3 linked regions of the Homo sapiens genome follow. The protein of the gene in region 1 interacts with the protein of each later gene in a pairwise test. Each region holds a gene or a part of one and is shown in the gene's direction. Other genes may lie near its edges. The genes, in order: UBE2E2, RNF220 and TRIM45.

Region 1 (3,652 bases):
TGCATGTGTTGAACCAACCTTGCATCCCAAAGTTAAAGTCTACTTGATCATGGTGGATTTGCTTTTTTGTATGCTGCTGGATTTGGTTTGCTAGTATTTTGTTGAGGATTTTTGCATCTACATCCATCGATCCCTTTTAGTCTTGTTCCCTGTCTCTGTCCTCCCTTTTCTAGGTGGGACTATAAACCCTTTGGCTTCCAGGGTACCCAGTGTAGCTCCATCCATTAAAGAGGCAAGGTGGGAGTTGTCTGAGCCTTTTTCCTCTAGAATCAAAGGTGCACATACCACAGATCTCAAAAAATGCGAAGAGGTAGATTACGCAATATGACAATCTTTTTTTTTTTTTCTGGAAAGACGGTCTCGCTCTTTCGCCCAGCTGGAGTACAGTGGCGCAATCATGGCTCACTGTAATCACGACCCCCTGGGCTCCAGTGAACCTCCTACCTCAGCCTCCCAAGAAGCTGGGACCACAGGTACATGCCACCACACCCAGCTGTTTTTTGTTTTTTTTTTTTTTTTTTTTTTTTTGTAGAGATGGGTTCTCACTGTGTTGCCCAGGCTTGGTCTCAAACTCCTCGGCTCAGGCCATCCTCCTGCCTCAACCTCCCAAAGTGCTGAGATTACAGGCATGAGCCGCTGTGCCCAGTTGGTATGACAGTCTTTCACTCGCTTGCAAATAATAGTGATTGTTAGTTGACAGGTATGTACTCTTTGCTTCTAAATTGTGTAGGGAGACAGAGGTGAGATAGAGGAAGTAGAGGTGAGTAAGAAGAAGGTATGTTCCCCTTCATCAGTGATCTTGCAGTCTTACGCTTTCATTCAGGTTATTATTTTATGACTGGTATTTTGTTAACAAAAATGCCATGATGCTGGCTTGGAGCAGCGGCTCATCCTGTAATCGCACCACTTTTGGAGGCCAAGGTGGGAGGACACTTGAAGCTAGGAATTTAAGACCAGCCTGGGCAACATCTGCCGTCTCTACCAAAAAAAATAAATCAATAAACTGGACATGCTACTGTGTGCCTGTAGTCCCAGCTACTCAAGAAGTTGAGGCAGGAGGATTGCTTGAGCCCAGGGGTCAAGGCTGCAGTGAGCTATGATCCCACCACTGCACTCCAGCCAGGGCAACAGAGTGAGACCCTGTCTCAAAAAAAAAAAAAAAAAAAGACATGATTTTTATTAAACAGATGAGGAAATGTGATTTAGAGGAAAGCTTTGTATACCTAACTTCCATCTCTATGATATTCTGTTAACCACACTGTAGATCCTATACTTCTGCCTCAGGAAACCTCTAATACATGCCGTACTGGTGTTTGGGAGAATTAAGTACTTGAAGTCATCTAACTCTGTTCTGCATAAGTCTGAACATGCTCCTCTTTTCAAAAGTGTAAATAATTTTTGAACAAAAACAGAAAATGTGGGAGGCTTTGATTTCAATTTACTTATCTACTGATAAATTTTGTGGCTTTTCTTTAGTAAAAATGAGGAAAACTGACAGATGATAATCTCAAATATTAATAAAGATTTGGGAAAATAGTAACAATCTAGAAACCCAAAATGATGGGAAATATTTTCTTCTTGTTAGAGAAATAGGGTACAGTAATTTATGTTTGGAGCCTGGCTTGGATGGCAGAGTGAAACTGTCTCAACAAAAAAAAAAAATTATTTGGTTGATAACATGTTTTTTTTTTTTATTACCTTTTAGTGTTGCTAAATTCATGACTTTTATTTACCATTTATTAAGTTTAACATTCTGCTAAGAAACAGTATTTTCAGACTTTCACATTGAAAAGTCCTCCCTTAATTAAGCATATACAATTTACCATTTTCAGCAGAGATCCATTTTCACAACTAGCTCTTCAGGATTATTCCACTGAGCTGAATCTTTATGTGCAGCATATGAAAAAGTAGTTTGTAGCCTTTTTCTCCTTTCATGAAATATTAGCTTAAACATCAGCACTGCTACTGGGGGTAATATTCAGAAAATCATAGGGACATGTAAATTGATATGAGAAGATAGTTACTATGTTGAATAGAATTTTAAGTGAACATCAAATACTAATTGTTAGTGGTCTTTTTTATTTTTTTAGAAACAGAGTCTTGCTCTGTCACCCAGGCTGGAGTGTGGTGGCATGATCACAGCTCACTGTAGTCTTAAACTTCTGGGCTCAAGCGATCCTCCCACCTCAGCCTCTCAAGTAGGCTGGACTACAGGGGCACACCACCACACCTGGCTAATTTTTGTTATTTTTTTGTGGAGTTGGGGGTCTCAGTGTGTTGCCCAGGCTGGTCTTGAACTCCTGGCCTCAAGCTGTCCTCCACCCTCAGACTCCCAAAGTGCTGGGATTACAGACGTGAGCCATCTGACCCAGCCAATAACATGATTTTTTTAATTCCTTCATTGTGTATTTTTACTTTATCCCTTCATTTTATACTTTAAACAAATTTAAGATTTGTATAACTTCCAAAGATGCATGCATGGTAATGGTCCTCACATCGTTGTTTTTAAAACAAAAGTTGGAGAGTACCCAAACATCTAAAAACAGGAAATTCGTTCTTAATTCAGGTATTAGAAATGATGAAGTAGATCTACAATTATCTATGTAAAAAGTTATTTACCATATCGGTATAAAAATCATAGTTATTTTTTAAAAGATTACAAAAGCAGACTATAAATTAATCCCTTTTTTTTTTTTTACATCATGTGATTAGAAGTGTAGGAAGAAAACATACCACGATGTTAACAGCAGTTTTCTTTGCGTGGATTTATACACGAGATGGTCTTTACTTTCAACTTCCTGTCTTGCATATTGTCTGAGGTGGTTTTCTAAATTATTATTAATTACTGTTTTATAGTTAGTGTGTATAATTTTACAGGTGGAAAAAAAATTTTTTAATCAAATTTGAAAACGTAAAAGAACCTTGAAAGCAATTAAATGTTAAGCATGCAAAAAAAAGTTTGCACAACGCACGCTAATTGTTACCAGCACTCTAACTTGTTTTTAATTGTTTCTCCTTTTGCCTGTACTGAAATACTATTAACAGTTGATATGACACATTTTCCCACCCCACAGCTTCTTGTTCCCTTTATTCTTCATTTGTTTCCCTCCACCCCCTTTGAGCTGAAGTGGCAGACCTGTCTTATTCCCAGTGTGTACACTCTGGATGTGGGTACAGTTTGAGGTGGAACATATAAGTCAGTGTTATTCTTCTGACATTGAGCCTTACCTTCATCAGTAAGTTAGAATGGATCTTCAATGTGTTTCACTAATATAAGTTCTATTTAATTAAACACCTATCTTGAGTGATACAGACTTAAACTATTAAGGATGCCCACGTTTCACCCTACTCTTTGCATTCTAGAATGCCAGGAATCAGAACAAGATTACTTTTTTTGAAGGTAGAGAAATGTGACTCAGATTTCACTTTGGCCCCTATTACTCTAATGTCATTACTTAAGCTCAAGTGAAAGGCTACATTTTTAAAAAAGTATCCTGGCCAATTGCCAGATATTTTGTGTCTGTATTTGGTAGTGCTGGTTTAAATCTTGTTGAATCTTGACTGGACTGGGTGAAATGGTAGAGTTTTCATTTCAACATCTGAGAAAATGAAGAAGAATCACAAAGAGTAGGCAGAGAGGCAAACGTTTCGA
Region 2 (3,652 bases), on another chromosome or scaffold:
CATTTCACCCAGAACGTGTAGGGACCAAAGTCAGCTACGCGTACATCACAGTAAGTTGTCTATTGATTTTCCTGAATGAAAATGGTCTGATGCTGCTGCCCACTGGCTCCTAAAGCCTGTGGTGTCTCTTGCCCGAGCATCTGTGAGCCAGAAGGATGGTGTTTCGATCACTTGGGGTTTCCCTTTTTTTCCTCCCCCTGACTTTCCTCCCCCTTCTTTTTTTCTCTTTGCTGTTTCTACAGGTCTTAGGAGGGAATGATTCCCCAGTAATATTCCCTGCCCTGACCCAAAGTGCTGGTTGGCCTCCCTCCCAGGGAAGACTGCTTCTTGCGTAACGCCGGCCACAGAAAGAGACTCCGATGGACTTACACCGGGCAGCCTTCAAGATGGAGAACTCATCCTACCTTCCCAACCCTCTGGCATCCCCAGCACTGATGGTCCTGGCATCCACGGCTGAGGCCAGCCGTGATGCTTCCATCCCTTGTCAGCAGCCACGACCCTTTGGTGTACCTGTCTCAGTTGACAAGGACGTGCATATTCCTTTCACCAACGGTTCCTATACCTTTGCCTCTATGTACCATCGGCAAGGTGGGGTGCCAGGCACTTTTGCCAATCGTGATTTCCCCCCTTCTCTACTACACCTCCACCCTCAATTTGCTCCCCCAAATCTAGATTGCACCCCAATCAGTATGCTGAATCATAGTGGTGTGGGGGCTTTCCGGCCCTTTGCCTCCACCGAGGACCGGGAGAGCTATCAGTCAGCCTTTACGCCGGCCAAGCGACTTAAGAACTGCCATGACACAGAGTCTCCCCACTTGCGCTTCTCAGATGCAGATGGCAAGGAATATGACTTTGGGACACAGCTGCCATCTAGCTCCCCCGGTTCACTAAAGGTTGATGACACTGGGAAGAAGATTTTTGCTGTCTCTGGCCTCATTTCTGATCGGGAAGCCTCATCTAGCCCAGAGGATCGGAATGACAGATGTAAGTACTTTGGTTCCAGCCCTCCCTTACCCCCAGTAAGCCCTGCCTCACCGTGATGTTCAACAGGTCGGTGGCGTTTTGCATGCTCCTAGTAATAGGAAGGGCCAACTACTTCCCTTTCACTAGCTGTGGAGTGCTAACCTTTGCTTGTCTCTTATCAGTGAGCACTGATAGTTCTTGAAATATTTTTCTGAAAGTAGCCAGAGGCAAGTTGGCCCCAGCACAGCCTTTCTCTCCGGACCCTAGTGGGCTTATTCTCTGAGGACTTGAGTGAAGAGGGGTGCCACCGACGTACTGAAGTGAATGTCATTTCATTAAGAAGTGTCGGCTCCTAGGGAATTTGGGGGGCCTAAAGAAACATGTCCACCCCTCCTCTCTTTGCTGTCCTCGTTATGTTTGTCTGATCTCAGTGTTATTTTTTAGCTTTTCCATTGTATCACATCCAGCAGACTCCACGTGATTCTATTTTCACAACTCTCAGCCCTTGTCCACATCAGGCTATTTTTCAGAGAAGGACAAAGGTGTCGTCAATCACCATAAAGCATTTCACACAGCTGTGTTTTCCTTGCGATCGCAAGGCTAGAAAGCCGACTTCTCTTGGGATTTCACAGGTTTGCTGGATGCTTATCCTGGGGCTCACTTTTAGGACTAGACACGGTTGACCTGTGTGACTGCTCCAAATTTGATGTTCACAACTATTATTAATTTCTGCTTATGAAACAGCTTTTTTTCATGTTCTCCAAGTGCCTTGTTGGGCTCTGGCTACACTTATAGCTGGAACTAAACCTTTATTTGGAACTTGTAGACTAGGAGTGCTGAACCCTGCAATCTTTTGCTCTAATATAATCAGAAAATAATTGTGTTTTGAAGCTTTTGGGCTGTGGGTAGACAGAGCAGTTTTCTTCAAGCCTGGTGAGAATTTATGAACTGAGGGTGTTTTTTCCACGCAACCCTTTGTTCTCAGATTTGCTTCATTTTATTTTCTTAAGAAAACTACATCTGAGGTTTGCCTTCCACTTTTCTCTATTTTTTCGTGCTCCCATCCTCTCTATAACCACCAACACGAATACCATTTTTTTCCCTCCTCTTTATGATGCCGAGGAGAGTAATAGAGACATTGCAGCTCTCTCCCCTGTCGCCACTGCTTCGTCAGGCTGTCTCCTTGAATTAGGCACTGTGTTAACTTCCCTGCGCTAAAAGGCATCTGCCTAAACCCAGCGTACCTTTTCAATAAAAGTCATCATAAAATCAACCTGCCTTGTAAATCCATCGCTCTTTGGTTTTGAAATATGTTGCAAGTGTGTCTTTTATGTCAGCCTCTGTAAGCCGGAGACCTCCCCACTTAAGGGAGAAGGCTGCTGGCTGACAGCACTACTGCTAGTGTTGCCCTCTCACTTTGGCTTTGGTTCTCTTTCACCTTTTCAGTTTCTGTTGACTTGTGTGTCTTGTGATCCTGCTTCTTGGATATACCTGCTGAACAGGTATCGGCATTGTGTTGGTTCATTTGATTTTATTTTAGTTTTCATTTGTCCAGTGATGTGCAAGTGATCAAGGCTAGTTATAATGTGACCTCCAGCCAAAACTGCCTTGTGTTAGGGTGTGACAGATTCCGCCCCTTTTTTTCTCCAAATACAAGTTGAAAATGAAATCTTCTCTTAGCTAATATGCCACAAAGTAACATCTGGAGATTGAGATCTCTTTCTTCTTACCTAACAGATCCAGCTTGTCTCCATTTTTCTATCTTTTTAGCCCAAACCTGTATCCGACTCCAGAGCAGGAGGAAGCTTGTTAGTCAAGTCAGAACTCATAGACGTGGATATCCATTCCCCTCTGAGTGTCAAAGCCATAACTCTTCTGTTTGCCTGGTTTGCATTGTGTGGTGGTGGCATCCCCCATGGAGATGGATCCCTCACACAGGAGTACGCCTGGGTGGAGAAAAATTAAATGAGTCTGTCTCCCAAAGTGAAATGGAATTCTGACCTTGAAATTAATGAGATTCTGATCAGAAGGGTGGGGAAACTTCTTTATTTCCAATGCGGTGTTATACAAATTGGAGTCCCTTTCCTCTTTTATTCATTTAAAATAGTCTTCCCTTATAGAGTACCCTGTGTTCTCCTTTTTTTTTCTTGTACACAAGCATAAAACCTATAGGAGTGTCTGTGAGGGGAGGGTGTTCGTACACCCTCGTTATTATCCAGAGTTGCATTTGTGACTAATCTTTAATAAAAAACAAAGGTGCAAAGTGAAAAGGAGGCTGTGCTACCCTGTGGTCACCCTGGAGTTGTGCTTTTTACTCCCTTCCTTACCTTAGGTGGTTAGCACATCCCTCACTGGGTCATACTAGATAGCGTTTGTGCTTTTGATTGCGAATTTTTGGAAGGCAGGAGAAGTATTTTTCTGTAAGGAAGGGTTGAAGAGGCACTAAGACAAAGTCTGCAGCAGCTTTCTTGGCTCCTGTCATATGCCGACGTGTGTCGGAATATTTATGGTCTGTTTTATGTAAATACATATTTAAGGGTCGTTAGAAGGCCTGATTATTCCCACTAGATGCCTTTCAGGTCCTCCCTACAGAACCGTTTTGAAATAAGTAATATTTCTCAGATAATCGAGTGACAGTATACAAGACTGCTTCCAAAGGGAGAGAAAGCTTCAGGGGCAGATGGGGGCA
Region 3 (3,652 bases), on another chromosome or scaffold:
GAAAACGACTTACCACACCATGGTGGACCTAAAAGACTTGAAAGGCTACAGCCGGATTGGGAAGCCCATCCTGTGTCCTGTTCACCCTGCAGAGGAACTGAGGCTGTTCTGTGAGTTCTGTGACCGGCCCGTGTGCCAGGATTGTGTGGTGGGGGAGCATCGGGAACACCCCTGTGACTTCACCAGCAATGTCATCCACAAGCATGGGGACTCTGTGTGGGAGCTCCTCAAAGGTACTCAGCCCCACGTGGAGGCCCTGGAGGAAGCCCTGGCTCAGATCCACATAATAAACAGTGCCCTCCAGAAGCGAGTGGAGGCAGTGGCAGCTGATGTCCGGACATTCTCGGAGGGCTACATTAAGGCCATTGAGGAGCATCGGGACAAGCTGCTGAAGCAGCTGGAAGACATACGGGCCCAGAAGGAAAATTCCCTGCAGCTGCAGAAGGCCCAGCTGGAACAGTTACTGGCAGACATGCGGACTGGAGTGGAGTTCACCGAGCACTTGCTGACCAGCGGCTCAGACTTGGAGATCCTCATCACCAAGAGGGTGGTGGTAGAACGGCTCAGGAAGCTGAACAAAGTTCAATATAGCACCCGTCCTGGAGTAAATGATAAGATACGCTTCTGTCCTCAGGAGAAAGCAGGCCAGTGCCGTGGCTATGAAATTTATGGTACGATTAATACCAAAGAGGTTGATCCAGCCAAATGTGTCCTACAAGGAGAAGGTAGGAAGGCATTTCCCATTGACATTGAGAGGGCAGTGGACAGGGAGGTGGTGTGTGAAGATTGGTGGCTTGTTCTGCTAGGAAGCATGCCCTACTGACCAGGTTACCAAAGGTGGGGAGATAAACTGATCTGAAAGACAGTGACCCCCACCTTTGCCCTTTCTGGTTTGTTCTGGCTAGGGTACAGTTAATACAGGAGTGAGGCTTGACCCTTTTCCAGTTCAGAGAAGTAATAATGGCTGAGAAACACACAGATCATGTTTTGTTTCTATCAGATGGCAGAACAGAGACAGTGCCCGTTGGAGGTAACAGCAGTGACTAGGGCCAGGTGAAATTCTGCCTGCTCAGAGAGGAGCATGGCAGGCCCTGGATTCCTAGATCAAGTTCTGAAGGGAGTTTCAGAGGAATGAGGAAGATGAGATTACGGTTTCCTTTCCTTTAGGCCCTTTTTGGTTCACATCAACTTTACTGGCATTTAAAAGGATATGGTAGGTGTTTCATTTAATTGGGGGAAAAAATGGTTTTTTTTAACGAGTGTTCCCTTTCTAATGGAAGCATATTATTAAAACATATGTTTCACAGGTCAGTAGGTCAGTCCTGATAGGAAGATTGCATCTTAATGACACAGGCATTCTTAACTGTTTGGAAGCCATAGATCTCTTTGAGAATGTTCTCTCCTACAGAAACACCCAGTAACTTGTGCATACAATTCCAGATTTTTAGACTCTTCATAAGCCTTTCCATAGACCTCATAGTAGTTCATGAACCTCAGGTTAAGAAACCCTGTTTCATCTGAATGCTGGAGTAGGGGCTGTAGCTACTGGATATCCCCCCAGTACCTTGGCATGAGCTACCAAGTTGCAGAGGATCTCAAAACATGGAGGGTCGTGAGGCTGGTCAGCTGTACTCCCTGCCTAGCCCAGCAGGATCTGGAGCTTAGGGAGGGTGGTTTTGGGGTTACTATCCTCTCTCACAGGGTCTAGAGGTTTTCTTTAAATACCTCGGTCAGTCGTGAGTATTTTTAAAGCATAGGACCTTCAGTCCTAGGACTGAAGGTAAGGTCCAGGATCCTGTGTGATCCAAAGCAGCTGCTAGCTGAGAGAACCAGGCCAACCAGGAAGGACTCCCAAGAGGCGTACTCTGGGAGGCAGAAGGGGAAGAGAAAACAAAGGGACCCAGGGTGGTTACAGTAAAGTACAACCCTTTGTTCTGAAGAGAAAAAGCAAGATGGAGATGTAGTCACTGCAGTTTACATTCGAGGTGAGGACCGAGTGTTTATCTTTTTCAGACCTCCACAGAGCCCGGGAGAAACAGACGGCCTCTTTCACCCTGCTTTGTAAGGATGCCGCAGGAGAAATCATGGGCAGGGGAGGAGACAACGTTCAAGTTGCCGTTGTCCCTAAAGATAAGAAAGACAGGTTTGTATGACACAATTAGGTGTCATGGATAACAGGCAGTGAGAAAACTGGAAACATGAGGTCCTTTAAGATATTGGAGCTGGGCACAGTGGCTCATGCCTGTAATCCCAGCACTTTGGGAAGTGGAGGCAGGAGGATCGCTTAAGCCCAAGAGTTCAAGACCAGCCTGGGCAACATAGGGACACCCTGTCTCTACAAAATTAAAAAAAAAAAAATTAGCCGGGAGTGGAGGCATATGCCTATAATCCCAGCTATTCAGGAGGCTGAGATGGGAGGATCCCTTGAGCCCAGGAGGTCGAGGTTGCAGTGAGCTGTGATTGTGCCAGTGCACTCCAGCCTGGGCAACAGAGCAAGACCCCAGGTCCAAAAAAAAAAAAAAGATATTGGAGTGTAACTCACTAGTTACGTCTTACCTCCCCATAATACTATGAAACGTTACGTGACCAAATGTGTTTTCTTGTGTGGGTTTTGTATTCAATTCTCTCTCAAAGCTATGGTCTGCCCCTCAGATTGTTTTCATCTCAAGCTTTAGAATAAGTTGAAAAATATTCTGTGTTAGACTGAATGGTACCCTTTTCAAAATTCAGTCTCCCTTTGGTACTAAATTATGCCTGGAGCATGTTTATATTTCTCTGGAATTGTAGAATGGAGGAGGGACAACAGAGCAAGAGGGTTCAACAGAAGCCTGTTGAAAAGGACACAATAATATATTCAAGGAATTTGTCTGAATATCAGACTAAATTGGAATTTATGCTGTTTACCTTCTGTTGTAAAATTAACTTCTGAAGCAAATGGAAGAAGCATCCTGTTTGGGTATATTTAACATTAATACTGAATGGGATGGTGTAGAGTTTACATTCTGAAATAGTAGCAACTGAAGCCAGCTTGTGGAAGTGAGTGGTGTTTTGACTCTTATCTCCATTCAGCCCAGTCAGAACAATGGTCCAGGATAACAAGGATGGGACATACTACATTTCCTACACCCCCAAGGAACCTGGCGTCTATACTGTGTGGGTCTGCATCAAAGAACAGCATGTGCAGGTAAGACTGGTGCACGTGCTTCCCTGAGCTCCCTGGATTCTACTGTCTTAGGATCTGGAGACATTTCACATAGGATCAGCTATACAGAGAGATTGAATAGAATCCCCATGTCTTCTTCTTCACTTTAGAAACAGCCCAGATTTTGCTACTCTTATTCTTCCTGGAGGATGCTGTTGACCATAAGAACCCTGTATCCCTGTGTCACCTCCAGGCAGTTATGCTTATAGCTTATCATTCTCCCAGTTGGTTTCTTAGGATTCTTAATATGGAGAAGATGTCTTGATCACAGGGGGTGATCTGCCAGCAGACAACCATGCATATTCAAAAAATATAATCTAGCTCAGGATTTTCCAGTTTTGTCCAGACTGTGTCTGGACATGAACACAGTTGAGAGGGTTATGCCCCCTCCTCACAATTGACTAGTCATCTATCTGCCTAACCATCTGCTCATGTAATTTTCTACTCTGT

Evidence for each region.
Region 2: the proteins of UBE2E2 (region 1) and RNF220 interact in a two-hybrid assay, tested with the Homo sapiens proteins (one large-scale study listed by IntAct).
Region 3: the proteins of UBE2E2 (region 1) and TRIM45 interact in a two-hybrid assay, tested with the Homo sapiens proteins (one study listed by BioGRID).

What each region holds. Positions count from the first base shown.
Region 1 is NC_000003.12:23,584,224-23,587,875, forward strand, and holds part of UBE2E2 (ubiquitin-conjugating enzyme E2 E2), read left to right. Parts: intron 1-3,652.
Region 2 is NC_000001.11:44,411,739-44,415,390, forward strand, and holds part of RNF220 (E3 ubiquitin-protein ligase RNF220), read left to right. Parts: exon of another isoform or gene 1-50; intron 51-242; 5' UTR 243-359; coding exon 360-984; intron 985-3,652. UniProt on the Homo sapiens protein: E3 ubiquitin-protein ligase that promotes the ubiquitination and proteasomal degradation of SIN3B. Independently of its E3 ligase activity, acts as a CTNNB1 stabilizer through USP7-mediated deubiquitination of CTNNB1 promoting Wnt signaling.
Region 3 is NC_000001.11:117,115,107-117,118,758, reverse strand, and holds part of TRIM45 (E3 ubiquitin-protein ligase TRIM45), read left to right. Parts: coding exon 1-725; intron 726-2,013; coding exon 2,014-2,143; intron 2,144-3,069; coding exon 3,070-3,184; intron 3,185-3,652. UniProt on the Homo sapiens protein: E3 ubiquitin-protein ligase that plays a role in the regulation of inflammatory response.